Regions from separate parts of the Homo sapiens genome. Here all the other regions are linked to region 1. The links come from fine-mapping of genetic effects on gene expression. A gene starts in region 1. Each other region holds a variant in brackets. All regions are shown on one strand. Distances are between the middles of the regions.

Region 1 (5,893 bases):
CTGGCCTGCACAATTAGATGTATGGAGGTTCCATTTACTGACATGGATGGTACAAATTACTGAGATTTAGTCCTCATATACTATGTGCTCATTTCAATTACCAAATTCAGTGAATTCTTATCACATTTTATCTCTCTTCATCTGACAATGCTGAAATACCAAACTCACCTGGTTTTTCTCTTACTCACAGAGACTCTTTGTCAGGTTTCATATACCCCAAAACTCCGTCTTTGGCTCTCTGCTATGTTCTTCAGTGCATTTTCCCTGGATGCCCTCATCCAAACAATCCAAGCTTTAACTATTAGCCACATAACTCTCTAAATCTCCATTTCCAACCAGAACTTTCTCCTCACCTCCAGAACTGTCTATCCAATTGTTTTCTGCCCATCTCCATTTGGATGTCTTACCCGCATCTCAAACTCAACATATTCAAAAGTATCTCCATCATCTTCTTCCCCCAAGACTCCTATTTCCCCATCTGTGAAAAGGCCAAAAATATGCCCAGCTTCCCAAGCCCAAAACCTATGATCATTTTATCCACCTCCTCTTTCAAGCCTGCATCAATGTTTCCAAGCTCTATCAAACGTACTTTCTAAGTGGCGCATCAACATGTGTCCTCTCTTCATAGCCCAATGCTTGAATTCAGATCTTCATCATCCTCCCCGGGATTATTACAATAGTCCTCTGCCTTCTCTGGCTTCAGCCTCACCCCACTCTAACCCATCCTTCACATCTCAATAGACAGAGAAATCCTCATTGGATTAAGTGTGGCAGACAAGGCCCTTTGTAAGCTGGTGCCCTTGGCAGGCTCTCCTGCCTCAACTCCCACCATTCCCCTTATATACACTCCAACCTCCCACTATACTGAACTACCAACAGGTTCATTCATAACTCTGTATGTACTTCTGCCCCTCCCCCATGCCTACCCAGTTTAAACTCCCTTCCTCCAGTAGCCTGAACTACAGTCTGAGATAATGACCCTCCTTCAAGCTCCCACAGTACATCTTTACCAATGTGCTTCTGACCCTACACAGTGGCACACACCTGTAGCCCCAGCTGCTTGCGAGGAAAAGGCAGAGGAATCACTGGAGCCCAGGAGTTTCAGTTCCAGAGCAGCCTGGGCAACACAGTGAGACCTAACCTCCCACCTTTTAAGTGTTAAGCACTTAAAAGGTGCTCAGTGAATGTTTGCTGAGTAACTGTCTTGATAAAACTTTAGAAGCTATCCTGTAAAAGATAAACTCTTATGTGCAGTATCCATGACCAGAAAAGAGGTGATTTGGCAAGAATTTTAGATTCAATAATTTTCTAAGTTGAACCAATAACATCAGCTGCTGATTTTTACATATCAACATTCATCTTCATTACTGAAGAGTTACGTCCAAGTTGTATGGGGCTATTACTCTAGTGATCTTTTCACTACTATGTAGTTTTGCACTCCTTCTACGTTTAATACCCTGATTTTAATTAAGATCACCCTAACTGCTTTGTCCTCCATAGCAATGTCTGACCTCTCATGCATAACAATTCTGTCTGAAGCATATTTCTGATAAACCTTAATTTTAGGCTATTTTCTACTTGTTTGATTAAACACAAATACCACCACCAACAAACACACTTTTAACCTTTTTTTCTAAGACAAAATACAGAATGGATTGTGTCTTACACAAAGTGTGTCATCATCTGTCAACCCCTGGAGGGTAGGGAGACTTTTACATTTATGCTTTACAGCCCCTGGAATCACTGTTTAAGTGGAACAGTTGGTGATCCAACAGAACTTCACCTAGTTTCCCTGATCCAAGGATTATATTAAGAACTTTTCCATGAAGAAAGAAATTACTGAGTAAACTCTGGTATTCAGATACTGTGATGCTAAATCATAACTGACATTTTGAAAACAAAGGGAATGAAAAAAATCTACGTGGTTTCTTAGCAGCTGGCCCTCTTTATAACTATTATTTAACTAAATTCGGAGACAGCAACAAGTACTTTGCTTTGAACAACAACACAGAAAAGTCCTGTGGCAGATACCACTTCAGATGTCCATAAAACAAGTCATCCAATTCCCATAAATTGAGCCCGAGGTTTACCTTAAGCTTGAGTCACAATATTTGGTAAGAAAAAGGAGCTTTTTTTTTCCTTTAGGAAAATTATGCTTTTTAATGCTCTATGTCTTGTCAAATTATGGTGGCTACGTCTGGAATTATGATGGATTTGACCAAATTCTTTTAAGCCAGGCCATCTCACTGGTATTCCAAGCTCTTTGCATTCTAACCTAGAAGTAACAATATTTTTTTATTGGCGTTTTGCAGACCACGGAAATGAGACTCTTTTATTACGGAGACTTAAAACTGAATGAGAGCATGGGAAAGGGAACTTACAACAAAACCCTGGCTTAACAGGAAACAAATCAACAAAGGCCCTACAAATGAAAAACCTGCAACTTTCCGCCACCTCCCAAAGGTGAAGAACGCCAGAACCCTAGTTCCTGAGTCAGAATCCGGGAGGGCCTAGACGATCCAGAGTCACCACGAGGAGAGGGCAGGGTGCGCCGCGAGGGCTCACCGCAGCCGCCCGCCGGGTCCGCTCCCCTGGACCGCCCCCCGGGAAGGAGCAAGGTAAAGCACTCTCCCCTCCTCCTCCGCACTCCAGGATCCAGGAAAGAGAAGAAAGAGGCTCTGCGCCTTCCCGGCCAGTCGCGGAGGCCCGCGTTCCCCATGGGCTGGGTCCCCTCGGCCCCAGAGAGCGCAGGCCGCGCCCCCTCCCCACCTCGGCTCTCAGTGCGCGCGCCTGGCCTGCGACCGCCGCGATGGGCGTGTGTCGGGCCCGGGGGCCCCACTCCCCGGCCCCAGCCCTGGTCCTGGCATCACTTACAGAGCCCAAGCGCCGCCGCCAGCACCGACCACAGCCAGCGCCGGCTGTCTGGGGCTGCAATCACCGCCCCGGCTCCGGCGGACGCTGCCATCGTCCAGCCACTGCAGTCGCCGCCGCCGCCGCCGCGTCCCTGAGCCCGGGTCCCCGCTGAGGTTGGCTCGGCTTGGGGAAGAGGCTTCTGATCTCTCCGCCACCCGCGCCGGGTGGCACCTCCACGCCGCGCTCCCCACTCCGGTCCCAGCCGCGGCTCTCCAGCTCTGCACCGAAGCCTCAGCCCCACTCCGGCCCTCGCTGTCCGCTCATTGGCCTGCCCGCACCCTTTTAAGGACGCGATTGGAGAGTCAGGCTGTCCATCATCCGTCCGCCGGGAAGGCCCCGCCTCCTCGGTCCCACCCAGGCGCCTCGGCCCCGCGCGGAGGCCGGGTCTGCAGCGGTCCCAGGCCGAGCCGAGCCTTCCGCCTGCCTGCGTGGCTGTCCGCCTGCGGGCCCCACCAGCCAGCGTCTCCTCTGCCTTTCTCAGGGTCCAGTCCCGTGGTCCTCTTCATTGTCTCTCCTCGCCACAGGTCTTTGCTGGGTACTAACCTCGCCTCCGTTTCAGCTCTTCTTGTTCTCTGCCGGCCTCACCTAACGAAAAAGAAGCAATTCATTTACCTTAAAAAGAAAGAAAAGACAGAAAGAAAAATAATGAGGCGTTCAATTGATGGGGGAGAGACTTCTGATTCAGTCGTCCAGGTGGAACACGTTCCCCGTGCCGTGTCCCCAAGGCCTGTCCTTTGCGTGGACTAGATAATGTATGTGTTGCAATTTGCGAAATCTACTAGTTTAAAAAGAAGTCTCCATCTTGCCCTAACCTCCTCTTAGGAACCTCCCTCCTGGCTTCAGAAGGATGGGAATCTGGAACTCTTTCCTACTACCTGAAAAACAAATGAAAATGCTTTTTGATTGTTTTGCTTTCGCATATCTGTGTTCCTGTCTGTGTCCGTGAAAAATAGAAAGCAGAAGTTCCCAACACTGATTCTGAAGTGCCCTGCAGAAGTTCCCGACACTGATTGCTGGCCCTGCTCAACTTGGTTGCCTTGGCCCAGAACAGTCTGCCACCTACGGGTTGTCCAATCAATAGGGGAAATATTTGGAAGGATCCTTATGAAAATGGCTTACAAAAGGGAAAAATGGGGGACAGGGGCACAAGAAAGATGAGTGTGAAGGAGGAAAAGGGAAGATTCAGGTGGGAGGCTGATACGATGAGGAAGGGAAGCAAGCTTTAGACAATTAGGACAAGAGCGGGGGAAGAGTATGGTGAGAACCCAAAATGTAACCTCTCACTTCAGGGTTTTTGTCTAAGGTCAGTCTTAACAATGCCATTCCTGATATCTGTGCTGTTTCAGCTAACATTGCAGTACAGCGAAATCATAAGAACATTAGTGAGAAAAAAACTTAAAAAAAAAAAATACCAGAACCACTTTGCCCTATTTCTGTCAGCAGATCCTTTTGAAGTTGTATCTCAAATGCCATAGGTTGGAAAAGATACCAATGCATTAATTGAACCATGGATGTAGAACACCTGGGCTTTACTCTCAAGAAGCACATCGTCTACTAGTGTACACAAACAAGTACTCAATTACATTTGTAAAAATGAGGGCCGGGTGCGGTGGCTCACACTTGTAATCCCAGCACTTCGGGAGGCCGAGGCGGGCAGATCACGAGGTCAGGAGTTTGAGACCAGCCTGGCCAGCGTAGTGAAACCCCATCTCTACTAAAAGATACAAAAAAATTAGCCGGGCATGGGTGGCGCGTGACTGTACCCAGCTACTCGGGTGGCTGAGGCAGGAGAATCGCTTGAACTGAGAGAAGAGAGACAGAACCTCTCATATAGTTTTATACTCAGAAAAGGAAAGAGAAGCGAAATTAAAGGCAGGTAACCCGGCGCCTAAGAACCAGACCCGAAACCAGGCCTGGGCCTGCCTGACCTAAGCCCGGTAGTTAAAGATCGACCCCTGACCTAACCGGTTATGTTATCTATGGATTCCAGACATTATATGGAAAGGCATTGTAAAAATCCCTGTCCTGTTCTGTTTCGTTCTGATTACCGGTGCATGCAGCCCCCATTCACAGTACCCTCTGCTTGCTCAATTGATCATGACCCTCTCACGCGGACCCCCTTAGAGTTGTGAGCCCTTAAAAGGGACAGGAATTGCTCACTCGGGGAGCTAGGCTCTTGAGACAGGAGGCTTGCCGATACTTCCGGCCGAATAAACCCCTTCCTTCTTTAACTCCGTGTCTGAGGAGTTTTGTCTGCGGCTCATCCTGCTACAGAACCTGGGAGGCAGAGGTTGCAGTGAGACGAGATCACGCGCCATTGCACTCCAGCCTGGGCGACAGGGCGAGACTCCGTCTCAAAAAAAGGAAGAGTGAATAAAGAAGAAACCCAAGGCCAGCAGGGACAGTGACTCTCAGCAGTGTTTAAAGCTTCTCTGCTGATTGTGATGTACCTCAGCCACATATACCTCGCTCTCCTAAAATCCACTGGCCCAAGAAGCATCTAGAAAGATTCACCAAGGATAAAACATTTAAGGTGAACTTTAAAAGATGAATAATTCACCAGAGAGAAAACAGGAAAAGCAAACTCAGAGAACGGAGAAAACAGGAAAAGCACATTCAGAGAAAAGAAATCACCTACCAAGTGTGAGAAACATTAGGTGAATCCTTTGTGGTTTGCAACTTGAGGGGAGTGAGGGAAAGAGGGGAAGAGAGAATGCCAGGAAAGGAGGCTGCGGTCATATTTTGAAGAGCCTTGAGTTGTGTTTTTTCTGGAGGCAGTGGAGAGTGGTGAAAGGGGTGTAAGAAGTTCGGATCTGTGTTTTAAAAAGGTAACCACTGCAGCAGGGCAAGAATGAAGAGAGCAGGAAATAAGGTATTGATAGTGGGGATGAGAAGACAGGATTTGAGAGACATTTCACGAAAAGAATTACAGGACTGGGTATAAATTGGATGAGAAGTATAATCAAGAGAAAAAGAGTCC
Region 2 (5,893 bases), 44 kb before region 1:
TTTGCAAATGAATCCTTCCATCACCTGCTCTCTGCCTTCCCTTCCCACAACATCTCCACATATTCCCTGCCTTGCATTTCTGAACCAGCGGGGATGAGCTACATGATGCTGTTTCTCAGCACTGGGTCTGAGACAGCTCCCTCAGTCAGGCTCCCTCATTGAATGGGGGCCATTTGAAGGCAGAGGATAAGATGTATTTATCTCTGTACTCCTTAGCACTTTGGACACAGCAGGAACTACATAGTTTGCTGAATCAAACTGAGGAATAACGTCTTGGTCAAACCAGTGAGAGATGGAAATAAAACAGTGAAAAATTCACAGAAAAGACTAGAATCATTATCAATCAATATTTTTAAAGTACAAGCCATGGTGCTAAAGCTATGAGGTATACTAAAGATGTAAGACAGGCAAGTCCTCTTAAAACACCCATATTCAGGAAGAAGAGGAAAACTGTCATATTAAGGGATCTGTATTATAGGAATGGCCCAGATAAGGGTAGTGAGTTTTAAGGGCTAAAAGGTTAAAAAAAAAAAAAGAGGCATTATGGAGGAGACAGAGGGTAAAAATGGGGTACAGCTTAAATGACAAGTGTTCAGAAGTAGGAAAACAAAGCACAAAGCATTTTTACTAAACTGGAAGTGATGCCATAAGAGAACAGAAGTGAGGCTAAAGTGGTAGGCTGGGCCAAATTGTAATGAGCTTTTAATTCTAGACAAATGTTGTCCACAATGGGAATCTAGGTTCCTGATAACCTGCAGTGGCAAGGTGAAAGAGCTGTTCTAAGACTATGCACCTGCTGGCATATGAGGGTTGGATTGAAAGATGAGAAAAACAGAAGCAGAAGAATAACAAGGGGCTACTGCACAAGACCAGGCACACAGTTAACATTGCTCAATAGACAGCAGAGACACAGGAAGGCTGACAAAAAGCTAGACACCAGAAACAAAGTAGGAAGAACCAGCAAAGGTTCTTATTTCTTGGGGGCAGAAGGGAAGTGGTAAGGGACAGGGAAGGAAAGGACAGAAAACACAAAACAAAACAAAACAAAACAAAACAAAACAAAACAAAATGATTACAAAACTCATCTGCAGATGAACACAATTAACCTAAAAAAAAAAAAAAAAAAAAAAAGCAGAAAAGGGAAACAGAAGGGAGAAAAAATGAGTTCAGTTTCAGACATGTGGATCCCAAGGCCATGGGCCAAAAAAGCCATCCACAGTATGGCTTTTGAATATACTGGGTTTGAATATACTTTTCCTGTAAAACCTATAAAAACAAAAAAGCAACCCACTCATCTTATTAAATGTGTCCCGACATTTTGGAATTAAAGGATCCTATGTCAATAACTGAACATGCTGGGATTAACTGCAATCAGACTCGTGTGTAAGTATAAATTGATTAGCTAAAAATATTAATCAGAATTACAGCATGTTCTTAATATTAAGTTTTGAGTTATGTAAACCTTCATGGACCTACACGACAAGACTGTTTCCAGCATAAATGGAACCGCTCTTTAAAAGAAAGTTATTACCTCTGGGTGGCTCTCACACCCACTCTTGCAGAAGACTTCAGTGGGAAATCTTTAAATGTTTAAATAGTTCTTTGGACTCTCTTGAGTAAACTTATGTGTTTAATCTTGCCTCTATGGGAACATTAGTGTATGTTCTATGCTGATGCCATATTTACGTGAAGCAGAGAATGCCTCTTTATGTCTTTCCATGGTATCTGTATGGATTCCTGTGCTCACCCTTATGGCTACTGTAAGGGAAGGCCTCTCTTATAAAGACCTCTAGACTATGCATTCTCCATAGGGGAGATTCTCCCCCAAGGGAGCAAACACTGGCTCTTGGGTGGGAAGCTTTGAGAAAATCTTTCTCTTTTATATGTAAAACAGTTGCAGAGGATATCTACAATATTAAAATTTCATGGAAGGGGGCAGAGATTAAGAAAAATGTGAAAAGGCTCCTTTTAAAAATAAATTTTAAAAAATACTGAGAAGCACTGCCTTAGGTAATCCCTAAAACCTATGAGGCCGTAAATATTATTAGCAGATTTTTCTACCTGAGAGAGAAATAATACATAAGGGAAATCATACCGTATTGAAGTTTAAACAATTCTAACCTGTGTGGTATGGCCACAGGTGAATAACTCTTGAGTCAGTGTCTCCCATCCTCCCCACCCTGTCTTCCTCATAGAGCTGTGAAGATTAAATGGCATAGGCATATGATGGGCCCAACATCTAGGTGGTGATCAACAATGTAACTCACCATTCAGAAGAAGAATTGGGCATTCTTAAAGATAGATGACAGACTGTCCTTGCTAAACACTGACAACCTGAAACATGCAACAGTACTAAAATATGTGCCAATATATGAAGGGCATTCCACATGCTGGGAGAGCAACAGTAACAACAAATGGTGTATTTTAGTAACTCAAGAGCTAGACACTCTCCTGAGCACTTATCTTGAATAATCTTACTTTATCCTCCTAACACCCTTGTGTGGGAGGTTTTATCGTCTCCATTTTACAGACCAGAACCAAGATAGTCAGTTCATGTTTAATAACCAGCACTCCACTAGTTACTAAATAACCTTTTTTCAATGCTCTGGTGCTGTATTTCTGTTACATCCTTTATCTTACTCCAAAGTCATCTATATATCAGCCTTCCTCCTAATCATCTCTAGGTGAGAGCAAGGATTCTGTTTTAGACATTTTTGAAGGCCCTACATAACCCACTACATAGTAAGCTCCCAAATCAATATTGCTAAATCAGATGGACTATACGCTAAATTAAAAAAAGATAATCAAATCAGAAGATGCATACATATATATATAAAATTTGATAATACATAAAACAAATATCAATAAATATGGGGCAATAAAAGATGAAAAGATGCAGGATAAATCCTGATTAGAGTCAGTGTGGTCAATTAAGATCAATTTCAGAATGGGATTTGATGGTGGAGAGGAACTGATCAAAGACAAGGAAACCAGACGCATTTAAGAGATGCTGAACTTATTTTATCCTGAAGCAAAAGAAGGGCCTTGAAGTCTATAACAGATAAAAAATACACTCATTTTGGAAATGAACCATCAGAAAAA[T/G]GGATCACCAATTATACAGCAGTAAAGAAACCTGTGAGGCAGGACTAGCCAAGAGAAGTCAAGCATTCTTACCGACACAGTAGTGTCGGCCCCCTCTGGCTGGAAGCTCCAGGAGACTGAGGTCAACCCGCCAGTCGTACTAGTAGACTTGAACTTGCAGGTCAGCTTCCCTTGTGTACCATTTGCCACGAAGATTTCTTTTGGCGTATATACTTCCAAGGCTGATACTCCAGCTGTCACTGAAGAGAAAGGAATAAGGGTAGTTGAAAGTAGGACTTAACATGAATACCACTGTGCATTTTTGCCAGACAAGAAAAGATACAGCAAAGTTACTAGATATATACAGTAATTCACTGCCATTACATATTTCTGGCAGAATATTCTACAGCTAAGTTCAATCAGAATAGCACTATAAACAGAATAATTGCTGACAGTTTAGGTTTGTATTGCTTTTTAGTTAAGATATTTTTATTAGTCTGGTTATATTGAATTTTTTTTTTAAACTAATAGACTTTTTAAAGAGCAGTTTCAGGTTTACAGAAACATTGAATAGAAGGTAGAATTCTCATATTCCCTCACTCTCCCATGGCCAACCTGTTTCTCCTATTATTAACATCTGGCATTAGTGTTATACGTTTGTTTTAATTGATGAGCCAATATGGTTACATCATTGTTAACCACAGTCCATAGTTTACATTAGGATTTGTGTTAGTGTTGTAGATCTTATGGATTTTGACAAAGGTGAATAGTGACGTCTCCACCATTACAGTATCATACAGAATAGTTTCACTCCCTAAGCATCCCCTGTGCTACACCAATTTATTCCTGCCGTCCTTCCCCCCACACCCCTGGCAAACACTGACCTTATACTGTCTCTATAGGTTTGCCTTTTCTAGAATGTTATCTAGTTAAAATTATACAGCATGTAGCCTTTTAAGGTTGCCTTCTTTCACTTAGTAATATGCACTTAACTTTCTTCCGTGTCTTTTTGTGGCATAATATCTCATTTCTTTTTATTGCTGAATAATATACAAATTGTATGGATGTACCACAGTTTATTCATTCACCTACTGAAGGACTTCTTGGTGGCTTCCCTGATGGTCTATTTTTAATGAGGTGATGGGCATATTTTTATTTCTTTAAGTAGTTCTCATGCTTATCTGTTACGCAATTGTTATCACACTGAACTTTTCTCATCATCCATATGTAATGCAATTAAAACTATCCTAAGATATAACTTCATTTTAAAGCCACATTTATTATTTAACTGATCCTTTTCTTATAAAGAACTTAAGGAAGAAAAATGCATGTTTTGGTTTTGTTAGTGCAATCATACCTACCATAAGATTTCACTGTGCTAGGTAAGTAAACAGCTGATTACACCGTATATCACATTTTCATTTCACCCATCAAGTTTTGTCAGTTAGCCTAAGCCCAGGAAATAGTAATTGAAATGTGTCTACCACTTAGAATATAAAAATGGCTCTTTTTTCAAGATCTGCAATAGTAGGCAACTGCAGGAATTGTTAAGGATTGCTGTTAAAAGTATTTGCCAAATTCTTAAAGATTGCTAATTTGAACATACTGCTATAAAAGAAATGCTTTCACAGACAAAATGAAAGTCAGAAAAAAAAAACTTATTTGGCCCAAAATTGGTAACTTAAAAATACCCATCTTCCATATTTTTTAAAGAAATCGTTTGGAATAAATATCTGCAGTGTTGCAATAATTCTTAGAATGTAACAGACGGGCAGAATAAGGAAGAGTATTGTCAGCCAGGACTGATGGTCATTTTCAGAATTTTTTCTCCTTGAAGACTTAACTGACTCTCAGCCAAGGAGAACAAGAGTACTCCCCCATTCCTCCCAACCATCTTGCAAATGTTTATTCTCAGGACATAATGGGCACTTTTGGCTATTCTTTTAAATAAACTGATAGCCATACTGCATCAAGCAGATTTTTTTTTCTGCGAAAGAGGGTGGATTATTATTACAGGGAACAATAGATTATTATTTGCGGTCCAAACCTCAAAACAAGCATTTCTTTCAGAGGAGATGCAAACAAAAGAGTTCCTTGCTATTGTGGGTACGCAGAAAAGCAGCCCCAGGGCACTTGAGTTCAAAATGAAGGACAAAGCACAAGACTAGACTAGTGGACCAGCTTATTCCAGGAAGCAGCACTGGCTTGCAACCCTTATTCACTCTGTGTGATTTTGACTAGTTTTCTCCATGGTGATGAGTACTGGAAAGCCACAGTCTCTAAAAGTCTATAAATAAAGTTTCTCAAGGATTTTCTTTTCTTTCTTTCTTTTTTTTTTTTTTGAGACCGAGTCTCAATCTTGTCACTCAGGCTGGAGTGCAGTGTTGCAACCTCCGCCTCCTGGGTTCAAGCAATTCTCCTGCCTCAGCCTCCCGAGTAGCTGGGATTACAGACACCCACCACGACGCCCAGCTAATTTTTGTATTTTTAGTAGAGACGGGGTTTCACCATGTTGCCCAGGCTGGTCTCGAACTCCTGACCTCAGGTGATTCACCAGCCCCGGCCCCCCCAAAGTGCTGGGATTACAGGCGTGAGCCACCGCACCCAGCCTTCTTCAAGGATTTTCTTAAACCAGATCCCTTCCTCGAGGCCTAGCTGCAAGACTTGTCATCCCGAGACATTATTTAAAGATGGAATTAGACCAAGTGTCCAAGTTTACAGTCACAGAATTTTGAGCAAAAAGACTAACCAAATTCCCAAATGGCTTTTAGGCATCTATTTAAGACACAGATTTCATTATACCAAAGTTAGG
Region 3 (5,893 bases), 63 kb before region 1:
AACTACAGTAAATGCTAAGACTAATCAGTCTTAAGCCCTTAGATTAAAAGGCCATGTCTACTGGAAATACTACAGGATCTGCTATTGTCTCCATTAAGGCAAACCATTTCTAAATGATGGTGAAAGGAATGTTTCTGAAATCTCCCAATTGTAAATGACCTGAAAAGAAAGTACAAAAACAGCAAGACAATGGGTACATATGTAGAATCATACCATCTTTTCATCATGCAACACTGGCTCCTCATATCAGGATGACTAAATAGAATATTTATACATATCCTTTGTACACATCTTTCTCTCCCTCTGTGAGTACACGTGTACTTGTCCTTGCCTGGGTCTCCAAGGCTACATGTGGTAATGGGCTACATTTTCTGCACGAGAGTCCAGTTTGGTTTTGTTTCTTGCTGAGGATATGTTCTAGGTATTCTCTTAATTCTTTCGGATATCCGCATACACCACAGACTCTGACTTGTTAATCTTGTCACTGTGATGTCCGCCGGAGTGGTCTAACTGTGCATATATGACTGGGCCCTGGAAAAGGGAAGCAGAAGGATTAGAGGACTGAAAACGCTGGCGGTTCCTTCAGCTACAGGCATAGAAGCAATGATTAACGTGATCACATCAGGGTTCCAAAGCAAAGACTTCCCTCTTGAATGTCTTCAGGAAGACTTCTTATGGATGATACATCCAGGACTGACTTTGAAACAAGATTGGACATACGTTGACAATAGTTAAAGCAAGTACATGGGGCTTTGTTACATTATTCTTTCAAACCTTTTTGATGTTTGAAAATTTCTGTAATAATATATTCCTTCTTAGGAATATCTCTTATCTTAATAGCTATCACAGAATTCCTCAGCTCTTACAATTGGGGTAAGAGTCTTAAGGACTAAGATGGGAACTTCCACGCACCTGAGACCCACAGAAATCATGAGCTTCAGAATAATCAATCCATGCAAGAAACCAACATATTTGGTGCCACCCAAAGATACAATCAATTTGATCTGGTCACGTTATACAAATAGGTATAGTTTTAAACAAATAGTTTAAAAGCACTTCAAATATTCTTCAATACAACTACTTACAGCATAATTCTTTTAGTCTGAGCGTATTGTGACCAATACAAATATTGCTTCCTTGATTTTTAATATCAGATAACTGTTCTTCCTGTTTTAAAATAAAATTAAAAAGAAAAAACAAAAAGCCACAATCTACACAGATATAAAGAAAAACCCTAAATGGAGTAAAGTAGAAAAGATCCTCTTCTCAGCCTCAGCAGTAAGGAAGAGGTTACAATTCCAGGGAATTGTCAGGGTCCCATTCAGGAGAGCAAGGGAAGGTTGGGTGGCCTGGGGGCAGAGCGAATTCCCTAACTGTTGGGGGAAGAGGTCAGATAGGTGGCTGCATTTCATGACTCTTTCAGTCTAGACTCTTAAAATTGTAAACAACAACAAAATAGCCCTGGTTTTAAAAGAAAGATTTAATATTACCCAATGTCAACTTTTCTCCCAATCTAGGGGAACTCTCCTTGAGAAGTCTAATAACGTGCTTAAGCTTTCACCTTTGAAATCATAAGCTCAATAGCCAAAAGCACGTGGTTTAAAATAAACACACTTACCCTCATCCAGGAGCCCTAACAACCTGTGTCCTTAGTGTGTAACCTGGGGTTCTGTGGAGTTCAGCTACTCCCACATCTACAGAAGGGACAGGCCCAGTTGTAAGGGCTATACAATGGTGCATCTAAAAGCGGAGTTAGAAAATAACACTCGAGGACTAGAGCCATTTGAATGTTGGCAGATCTGCAGTCTGAATTATGATATCGTCTTTGTTGAACCTTAGAGAAGAGCACTGGTCACGTGGCCCTGGGCACATTTGTAAATTTCTAAGCACAAGTTTCTTCATCTCTAAAATGGTACTACTAATAATATCTACATTTTTGTTTTTTGTTGTTATGAAAATTAAATAAGATGATACCTATAACTTAGGCAGTGTCTCACAGACAGTACTTAATACATGTTAGTTATTATTATGAACGTCTTGTTACACAAACATACTTTAAAATGCACTGAGGTAACTGGTCAAGTAAATTAAATAGTCAAACTCTGTGTGTTTATCTTTAGTCTATAATGGCTGTCATAGGAAATATTAACAGATCACATGGTTAATAATCATACAGACCCTCTATATTCATCTCAGAAAGCTACAAGTTAAATGCTAACCCCACCAAAAAACAAAAGGAAGTTAAAAAGACTGTTTTCGGCCGGGTGTGGTGGCTCACGCCTGTAATCCCAGCACTTTGGGAGGCCGAGGCGGGCGGATCATGAGGTCAGGAGATCGAGACCATCCTTGCTAACACGGTGAAACCCCGTCTCTACTAAAAATACAAAAAAATTCGCCGGGCATGGTGGTGGGCGCCTGGAGTCCCAGCTACTCAGGAGGCTGAGGCAGGAGAATGGTGTGAACCCAGGAGGCGGAGCTTACAGTGAGCCAAGATAGCGCCACTGCACTTCAGCCCGGGTGACAAAGCGAGACTCCGTCTCAAAAAAACAAAAAAAAGACTGTTTTCTACTAGGAACAGAATTAAACTAACTGTTCCCTGGTAACAGCTATTTCCAAGAATAGGACGGAACTCCCAACATTAAATTATATAAATTCTTAGATAATAAAACCCCATATCATAATTCCTAAAAACTCACTAAGAGTTTTAGGGTATGTTCATGGGAGAAGGGGTTTACAATGTGTGACTGACTGCACAAATGGCTACAAACTCTTTCCTTCTCTGCATCTTACTCTTTGCAACATAATGCTGTAGGTCCTTCCAATCAAGAGTAGAAATCTGTTTCTCTACCCCTTGAATCTGGGCTGATCTTGTGATCAGCTCTGACTAACAGAATGAGGCAGCAGTGATGCTGTGCAGTTTCCACACCCAGACCTCAACAGACCTTGCCACTTCCACTCTCACTGATCTTGGGACCCACACAGCCACCAC[T/G]ACCATGTGAAGAAGCCAAAGTCAGCCTGATGGCTGATGAGAGATGCATGGCCCAGCTGTCCTCTGTCTGCCTGGCCAACAGCCTGCCAATGGTTAGACTGTAAGTGAGACCACTGTAGACTGTCCAGCTACCAGTCAACCTTCTAGCCAACTGCAGATGCACAAGTGAGCCAGCAGAGATCAGCTGAGCTCATCCAGACCAGAATCTGCTCGACCAATCCACAGAATGGGGAGCCAAATAAATAGTGCGTGTTTTAAGCCACTATATTTTGGGGGGTTTGTTACGTAGCAGTAGATAATTGATATATTATGTGAGTAGAAAAGAATGAGAACAGAGAAAGTAAAGAGGAAAAAGAACACAGAATTATCTTTTAGTCTGTAAATGTTAAAATATCAATGAGGTCTTTCATGTGAGACAGTACTGTCTTTCATGTCAAAAGAATACAACTATCTCATGAAAGTAAATGGGAAAACACTGAAGAAATCCCTTCCTGCTGATGGACTTGGTATTCTTCAAACTGTTTACCACTGCCTGATGTTATCCTCATTCCTCTTCCCCCTTAGAATATAATAAGGTCTTAAGTCAGGGACTTTGTTAACTTCCTAGAACTTGGCAGAACACAGGTGCTGGATGAAGGGATGGATGAAAGAAAGGATGCAGAGAAACTGCAGATGTAGGTTGAGATTGGGGTCTGCTGACAGATCTAGCTCAATCTAGAACACCTCTATGAAGTTTGATTCTGAGTGCTATTTAGAGGTGGAAGGAGCCCTGAGTCTCTATGGAACATGCCTCAGCACCTCGATTTTGAGGGCAAATGAGGCTGCTCAGGACTTCAAGAGGATCCACAGAACCACGATCAACTTTGAAATGAACCTACCATTGTTAAGACATTCACTTTTGGGTATAATAAAGAAGGAAAACAACAACAAAACCTACATTAACCTAGCTGTTTTACTCTATCTCTTGGTACTCACCCTCCCCACCCTCCATTTCATTTATTTATTTATCTTTGCTTTTACACAAAGAATTACAACAATAAAGTGAAAAATTGGTCTGAGTATGTTTTCAGCTACTTTCTGCATGAATAGGCCTTAGCTATTGAAAATGTTTCAAGAAACACATTGCTTAATATAGGCCTATTATTTTAGTTACAACTAGAGATAAAATTACCTCTGAAGTTTACTTGTACCAAAATTAATTATTTATTCCAATAAAAAAACCATAACTGGTGAAGGTTGGGGGAGAAGGTCCAGGAAGAAAGGATTCTAGAAAAGCAAAGAGACCTGCTTCTAACTACAAATTAACTGCTCAGGAGTCATTATGTTGTGTCCTGTAGTACACCTTTCACAGTCTCTGTAGCCTGTAGCCCTATTTAATTTGATTCTAGTCCTTCAGGTGTTAGAGGAGTCATCCCCAAAAGCCTAGCACGAATCACTAAGAAAGAACATCTATTTTTACCATGTGCTCATTGACTACTGACAGAACACCTTTTTTTTTAGTATTTATTCCACTGTTTTTTAAGTAAAATATAAATATGAAACACAGCTATGTATTATGACTTTCTTTGAGATAAATGAGACAAATACTGATTATCAAAGCAGAGGTGAAAAAAATTGGACAGGATAAAATATACATGTGCCTTAGAACCAGACAGATCTGGCTCAGCCACTAACTACTGACCTTGAGCAAGTGACTTGCCTAACTAAGCCTCAGTTTCTTCATGTGTAAAATAGAGACAACAGAAGAACTTACCCTGGAGGACTGTTGTGAGGACTAAAGGAAAAACGCACATAACTACTTCTTGAAACATTACCCTGTCTATGCTATGCACTATAGTTGACAAATACATAAATATTCCATTCAATCACTGTTTAACAACATAACCCAAAAACCTACCTTTTGCATACAGAGCATCAACGATATCCAGAAAAGGATCTAGAAAACCAACTACTCCTCAAATACATATACAAAAATTACTTTATACCAATCTCATTCAAAACTAAGCTTCACAAAGAAAAAAAATTTTCTTATTTTTTTCCACAGTGCCTTAACACTCTAAACTCTAGGTAGTGCCTATCTAACACCTTCCCAACCCAGCCTCCCACTCCACTTGGCTGGAAGAGCCCCAGTTTGGTTCTGGTCTTTACTCTCCCTTTGCTCAGGTAGATGACCCTACCTTCCTCTGCCCTAAGAGTGAATCAGAATGGCATCAGCTTCTAAGCCACAATGCTGGAAGCCAGAACAATCAGCAATGACTCAAAATGCTGAAGGAAAATGATTTCCAACTGGGAATCCTACCCCACCAGATTCGCAATCAAGTTTGAGGGAGGAGAATAAAGACAATTTTAAAGGTGTTAAAAACATATTAATTATCTCACAGTTTTACAGGTCAGAAGTCTGAAATGTGTTTCACTGTGCTAAGATCAAGGTGTCAATAGGACTGCGTGCCTTCCACAGGTTCTAGGAGAGAATCTGTCTCCTTGCTTTTTCCAGCTTCTGGAAGCTGCCTGTATTTCTTGGCTATGAGTTCTTCATCTTTAAAGTCAGCAGTATAGCATCTTCCAGTCTCTCCCCGATGCTTACCCTTCTGCCTCCCTCTTCTAAGGACCTTTATGGTTACAATGGAGCCACCCAGATAACCCAAGACAATCTCCCTATCTCAAGGCAATTTAATCACATCTGCCAAGTCCTTTTTGATACGTAAGGTAACATATCCTAAAGAATCCAGAGATTAGAATGTGGACCTCTTTGTGGGGCCATTATAGTCTACCATTCAAGTTCTCAAAATTTTTTTACCTCCTGTGCATTTCTTCTCACTGGGTTGGTAGTATCCAAGACACAGGCAGAAGAAATACAAATCTTCTCATGAGTAAATATATTTTAAATGAAGACTCAATCAATTT
Region 4 (5,893 bases), 57 kb before region 1:
TTATTTTTTTCTAATATAAACAGTTAATGCTACAAATCTTCAAAGCACTTCTTTAGCTATATCTCACAAATTTTGATATGTTATTTTCACTCAGTTCAAAATATTTTCTAATTTTTCTTGTGACTTCTTGTTTTACTCATGGGTTGTTCAATTTTGAAATATTTGAGACTTTCCAGGTATCTTTCTGTTGATTTCTGTTTAATTCCATTGTGGCCAGAGAACGTACTCTATATGATTCCAACCCTTTTAAATTTAATGAGAATTGTTTTATGAACCAGAATATGGTCTATATTTGGTTAATTTTCATGTGTACTTAAAAAGAGTAAGAATTCTGCGCTTGATGGAAGGAGTGTTTTATAAATGTCTATTAGCTCAAACTGGTTTCACTGTTAAGTCTTCCGCATCTTTTTTGATTTTCTGTAAACCTGTTCTACCAACTGCTGAGAAAGGAGTGTTGAAACCTCCAACTATGATTGTGAATATGTCAATTTCTCCTTTCAATTCTCTTAGTTTTACTTCACTTACTTTCAAGCTCTATTATTAGAAGTATAAATATTTAGGATTATGTCTTCTTCATGAGTAGATCACTTTGTCATCATAAAAAGTCTGTCTTTATCCCTGGTTCTATTTCTTGTTCTGAAGCCTATTCTGATATTATTACCACCCAGATTTCTCTTGATTAGTGTTAATGTAGCATATCATTTCCATCCTTTTACTGTTTAAAAAATGTGGTAAAATATATATAACATAAAAATTAGCATCTTTACCATTTTAAAGTGTACAGCTTAGTAGTGTTAAGTGCATTTACATCCTTGTGCAACCAATCTCTACGATATTTTCATCCTGCAAAAACTGAAACTGTACCAATTAAACAACTCCCTATTCTTCCTTCCCCAACAACTACCACTCTACTTTCTGTCTCTATGAACTGGACCACTGTAGGGTATGGGATATTAGTAGAATCACATAGTATGTCTTTCTGTGGCTGGCTTATTTCACTTGGCATATCTTCAAGATTCATCCATGTTGTAGCATGTGTCAGAATTTCTTTCCTTTTAAAGACAGAATAATATTCCATTGTGTATATATATACCACATTCTATTTATCCACTTGTATACTGATGGACTCTTGGGTTGCTTCTGTATTTTGGCTCTTGTGAATAATACTGCTATGAACATGGATGTACAAATATCTCTTCAAGACTCTGCTTTCAATTTCATCCTTGTATTAATATTTTTAACCTACCTGGATCTTTTTATTTAAAGTGGTTTATTGCAGACAGCATATGATTGGTTCTTGCTTTTCTATCCAATTTGTCCATCTCCACCTTTTATTGGCACACTCAGCCCATTTATAGTAATACAATCATCAGTCTGGTTGAGTTTAAATCTACCACTTCATTATTTGTGTTCTATTTGCCCCATCTACCCTTTGCTCATTTTCCCCTCCTTTCCTGCTCACTTTTGGATTAACTGAGTATTTTGAAATGATTACATTAAAGTTTCTTGTTGAAACCTCCAACTATGATTGTAAATACGTCAATTTTTCCTTCCAATTCTCTCAGTTTTACTTATTTTCAAGCTCTACTATTACAAGTATAAACATTTAGGATTATGTCTTCTTTGTAAGTAGATCGCTTTATCATCATAAAAAGTCCCTCTATCTCTGGTTCTATTTCTTGTTCTGATGCCAACGTTGATATTATTACCATCCGCATTTACCATTTTCCATGTTGTAGCATATGTCAGAATTTTGTTCTTATCAGTATTGCCATTCGGAGATAGAGCTTGTTAGCTGTATCTATCTCTTTTATTTTTTTCAGTGTTTGCTCTAGAATTTGCAGCATATATCTTTAACTTACCACAGTCTACCTTCAAATTATAATTTCATGGATAATATAAGGACCTTACAACAGTATTCTTCCATCCTTCCACCCCATCCTTTGTACTACTGTTGTCATACATTTTACTTCCACATGTTATAGCCTCATAAAATGCTGTCATTATTTTTGCTGTAAAGAGTCAATTTTTTTTTTTTTGAGATGGAGTCTCACTCTGTTGCCCAGGCTGGAGTGCAGTGGCGCGATCTTGGCTCACTGCAATGTCCGCTTCTGTGGTTTAAGCAATTCTCCTGTCTTGGCCTCCCAAGTAGCTGGGATTACAGGCGCCTGCCACCATGCCCAACTAATCTTTGTATTTTTAGGAGAGATGGGGTTTTGCCACGTTGGCCAGGCTGGTTTCGAACTCCTGACCTCAGGTGATCCACCCACCTCAGCCTCCCAAAGTGCTAGGATTACAGGCGTTGAGTCACTGCGCCCAGCAATTTTCGCTATTGCTTTCTGTGTGTTTATGTTTTTCATTAAATTTACTAAAAATTTCACTATTTCTTTACATATTTTTTTCTCTCCCTTTTTCTTCTCGGATTCTAATTAGATTGCTTGATATTGTCCGGTGGCTCACTGAAGCTCTGTTCACTTTCTTTTTTTTCTTTTTTTCTTTTTTGAGACAGAGTCTCGCTCTGTTGCCCAGGCTGGAGTACAGTGGCATGATCTCAGCTCACTGCAACCTCTGCCTCCCAGGTTCAAGTGATTTTCTTGCCTCAGCCTCCTGAGTAACTGGGACTACAGGCACGTGCCACCATGCCCAACTAATTTTTTGTATTTTTAGTAGAGATGGGTTTTCACCGTGTTAGGCTCTGTTCACTTTCACCCCGCCATCTGTCTTTCTCTTTGAGCTTCATTTTGGATAGTTTCTATTGCTATGTCTTCAAGTTGATTGACCTTTTTTTTTTGCAGTATCTAATCTGTTGTTAACACCATCCAATTTTTTTTTATTTCCAGAAGTTCCATTTTGGTCTGTTTTAGATATCTATTTCTTTCCTCATTGGGTTCAAGCTTTCCTTTACATCTTTAAGTTTACTAATAAGATTGATAATACTCATTTTAAGGTCTTTGTTTATGAATCCCATCATTTCCATCCATTCTGAATTTGTTTCTGATTGATTTCTCCTGATTTTTTATTGTAATTAATTATTAAATTATTATTTTTTTAAATCTATCCATCCATCCATCCATCCATCCATCCATCCATCCATCCATCC[T/ATCCT]TCCTTCCTTCTTTCCACCCATCTATTTATTTGAGATAGGGTCTCACTATATTGCCCAGGCTGGTCTTACACTCTTGGGCTCAAGCAATCCTCCCACTTAGGCTTTCAAGTAGCTGGGACTACAGGTACACACCACTATATCTGGCTTATGTGTTTTATTTTTTGGTTTCTTTTTATGCCTGATAGTTGTTTTTTTTTTTTTGAGATGGAGTCTCACTCTGTCACCCAGGCTGGAGTGCCAGTGGTGTGATCTCGGCTTACTGCAACCTCTGCCTCCCAGGTTCAAGTGATTCTCCTGCCTCAGCCTCCTGAGTAGCTGGGATTACAGGTGTGCACCACCACACCTGGCTAATTTTTGTATTTTTAGTAGAGATAGGGTTTCACCATGTTGGTCAAGTTGGTCTCGAACTCCTGACCTCGTGATCCACCCGCCTTGGCCTCCCTAAGTGCTGGGATTACAGGCGTGAGCCACCGCACCAGGCCATGCCTGGTAGTTTTTGATTGGTGCCAGACATTGTAAATTGTACATTGTTGGGTGATGAATTTTGTTGTAGCATAAAGCGTGTTGGATTTTGTTGTAAAATGCAACTAAATTACTTTTGGATTAGTTTGATTCTTTAAAGGCTTCCTTTTAAGCTTTGTTATGGTGGGTCCATAGCATCCTTTATTCTGGTACTAATTTAACCCATTTAGGTATGACCATTTTGAGAACCCCAACCAATACCCTGTGTATTATAAGTCTCTCTACTCTGGCTCTTAGGAACACAAACTAGTCCCTCACCTGTGTGAGCACCAGGCATTGTGCAACCTACTGCATTTCAGGTAGTTCTTCCCCTGGTTTCAGAGAGTGTTCTCCTATGTGTATACAACTCTGTAATCAGACAAAGACTCAAGGGGACCCCGCTCCAAATCTCTGAAGTGCTCGTGCTCATCCTAGCACGCTCTCTCTATGGTTCCTTCTTTGGTACTCAGCCTCATAAATCTTAGCCTCCTTGACCTCCCCAAATTCTGATTTCCGCCTTCTCAATTGAGTGAGACAGCTGGGCCCAGTTTCCATTTTCCCCACCTACACTGCAGTGTGGAAACTGCTTCAAGGCAGTACACTGGGGCAATAACACGGCTCACATTGTCTGTTTCCTTTCTTTTGGGGATGACAGTGCTGCATAATTTGTGTTCCACTGTCTTGAAAACCACAGTTTCTTTTTCTTTTTTCTGGTTTGTTTTCAGCAAAAAAGCAACTTCCATAGTGCTTCAAGGGCGGAATAAAAATGTTCCAATGCTTTTTTAGATGCTATGCCTATGTGTATGTAACTTTCATGTCTTCATTTACAACCATATTCCTGTTCACAACCCAAATTAGTAGACTGAGGTATCTGACATATATTATGTAATGTGAGAGAGAGACAGACAGATAGAACAGGAACAAGTAATGAGCCTGATGCTGTGGTAGAGAACATGCTATCTAGACACCTGGGTTCTAGCCCCAGTTCTGTCACTAACTGGGTGTGTGCTTTTAGTAATTTAACATCACAATGCCTTAGTTTCCTCACCACATATAACAACTATGGAATAAGACTATGGGTACTTTTCCCACAAAACACTGTTACTCTCTTTATTTCCTCTTAAATCCATTCCCACCAGCTAACACCTTTTTAGGACAAAGCTATAACTGGCCAAATTCTTTAGCATGCTTTCTACCCCAGAAAAATCAAACTGAACTAAGCTATGGAATTTTTGCCAAGCCACAGTTATAATTAAAATACTACAGCCAAAACACACAAAGCTAGATTATATGCTAACTTCCAAATAAAACCTGTTTCTCTTCTGTACTTTCTACAAGTAGAAACCAAAACCATTCCTTGTTCATCAAGCCTATTAATTATTCAGATAAATGCTTACTTTCCATTTTTTCTAAAGAATCCACAGAAAATAATTTTGGTTTTATTATCAATACTAAGAATACCAACTTTTCCTTGCTAATTTCTTATCTTAGAGTACCTCAATACAGAAAGAATCTCCTTCATTAGATTCATTTCCTTGGGCAATTAAAGAATCTTTTACTGACAAAGCCATTTCCTAATTCTGCTTGAGGCAAGGAAGCTACATGGTTAGTAAACAATTTATGTTATTGGTGGTTTCATGGAAATCTTTACTCAAGCAGATTCTTCACCACATATTTTCCTGTGGTCTTCCTAGGCCAGCCCTTTAATTCCTCACTCCCACTCTCTCTTTGTCTCTGTCTGTCTGTCTCTGTCTCTGTCTCTCATAGCTCAGTATTCTTTTCCACACCCAAGGAAGTGACAGAGCACCAAGCTGTAGGGAACAGTGCAGTGGGCAGAATCGCAATCAGCCATTACCTGGTGAGATCCAGAAGGCAGACTCTTTACAAGACCCTCAGTGTCGGAGGGGGACTTCCGAGGAGCCTGCTTAACTGGTGACAAACTCTCTGATGTACTGCAGCTGATGAATTGGCAATTTGAAGAACAAATGTAAAAAATAATAATAATAAATAAATAGAAACAAAAATATAGAAATGCAACTGACGGCAAGATGAAGCAACAGATATATAAAAACAAAAGACAACATAACAATGGGTGTCAAAATGATCACATGTTTTTAAACTATTTTCTATACCTGACACTCACTCATTCTTCTAAGTCAATGAACTCATCACTGGGGGAGGCACAGAAACAAATATGGTACAACCTCTTCAACCCAGTTTACAAAAATCATATTGGAATTCTAGTTACAATACACATTTATCCTTTTGCTGTTTGTCTTTTCCCCCTGCCA

What was found. PIP is the estimated chance that this variant, and not a neighbour inherited with it, causes the effect. A credible set is the group of variants that fine-mapping cannot tell apart.
Region 2: its variant is the best candidate, but not a certain one, in a credible set for the expression of MPZL1 in whole blood (TOPMed, PIP 0.83).
Region 3: its variant is the best candidate, but not a certain one, in a credible set for the expression of MPZL1 in whole blood (TOPMed, PIP 0.69).
Region 4: its variant is the best candidate, but not a certain one, in a credible set for the expression of MPZL1 in monocytes after LPS (Fairfax 2014, PIP 0.57).

Annotation. Positions count from the first base shown.
Region 1 is chr1:167,719,224-167,725,116 of GRCh38, reverse strand. It overlaps MPZL1 (myelin protein zero like 1), which reads right to left and starts at 3,135. Exons shown (of 6, transcript NM_003953.6): 1 at 2,875-3,135. The coding sequence starts at 2,965. RefSeq lists silencers at 2,496-2,635, 2,666-2,735, 3,126-3,495 and enhancers at 2,307-2,807, 5,034-5,533.
Region 2 is chr1:167,763,031-167,768,923 of GRCh38, reverse strand. It overlaps MPZL1 (myelin protein zero like 1), which reads right to left. Exons shown (of 6, transcript NM_003953.6): 2 at 3,175-3,341. Among named protein-coding and RNA genes, the nearest start is that of MPZL1, 44 kb to the right of the region's middle. The variant T/G (reference allele first, on the strand shown) is at 3,103.
Region 3 is chr1:167,782,458-167,788,350 of GRCh38, reverse strand. It overlaps MPZL1 (myelin protein zero like 1), which reads right to left. Exons shown (of 6, transcript NM_003953.6): 6 at 1-531. The coding sequence ends at 430. Among named protein-coding and RNA genes, the nearest start is that of MPZL1, 63 kb to the right of the region's middle. The variant T/G (reference allele first, on the strand shown) is at 2,990.
Region 4 is chr1:167,775,731-167,781,623 of GRCh38, reverse strand. It overlaps MPZL1 (myelin protein zero like 1), which reads right to left. Exons shown (of 6, transcript NM_003953.6): 5 at 5,458-5,560. Among named protein-coding and RNA genes, the nearest start is that of MPZL1, 57 kb to the right of the region's middle. The variant T/ATCCT (reference allele first, on the strand shown) is at 3,101.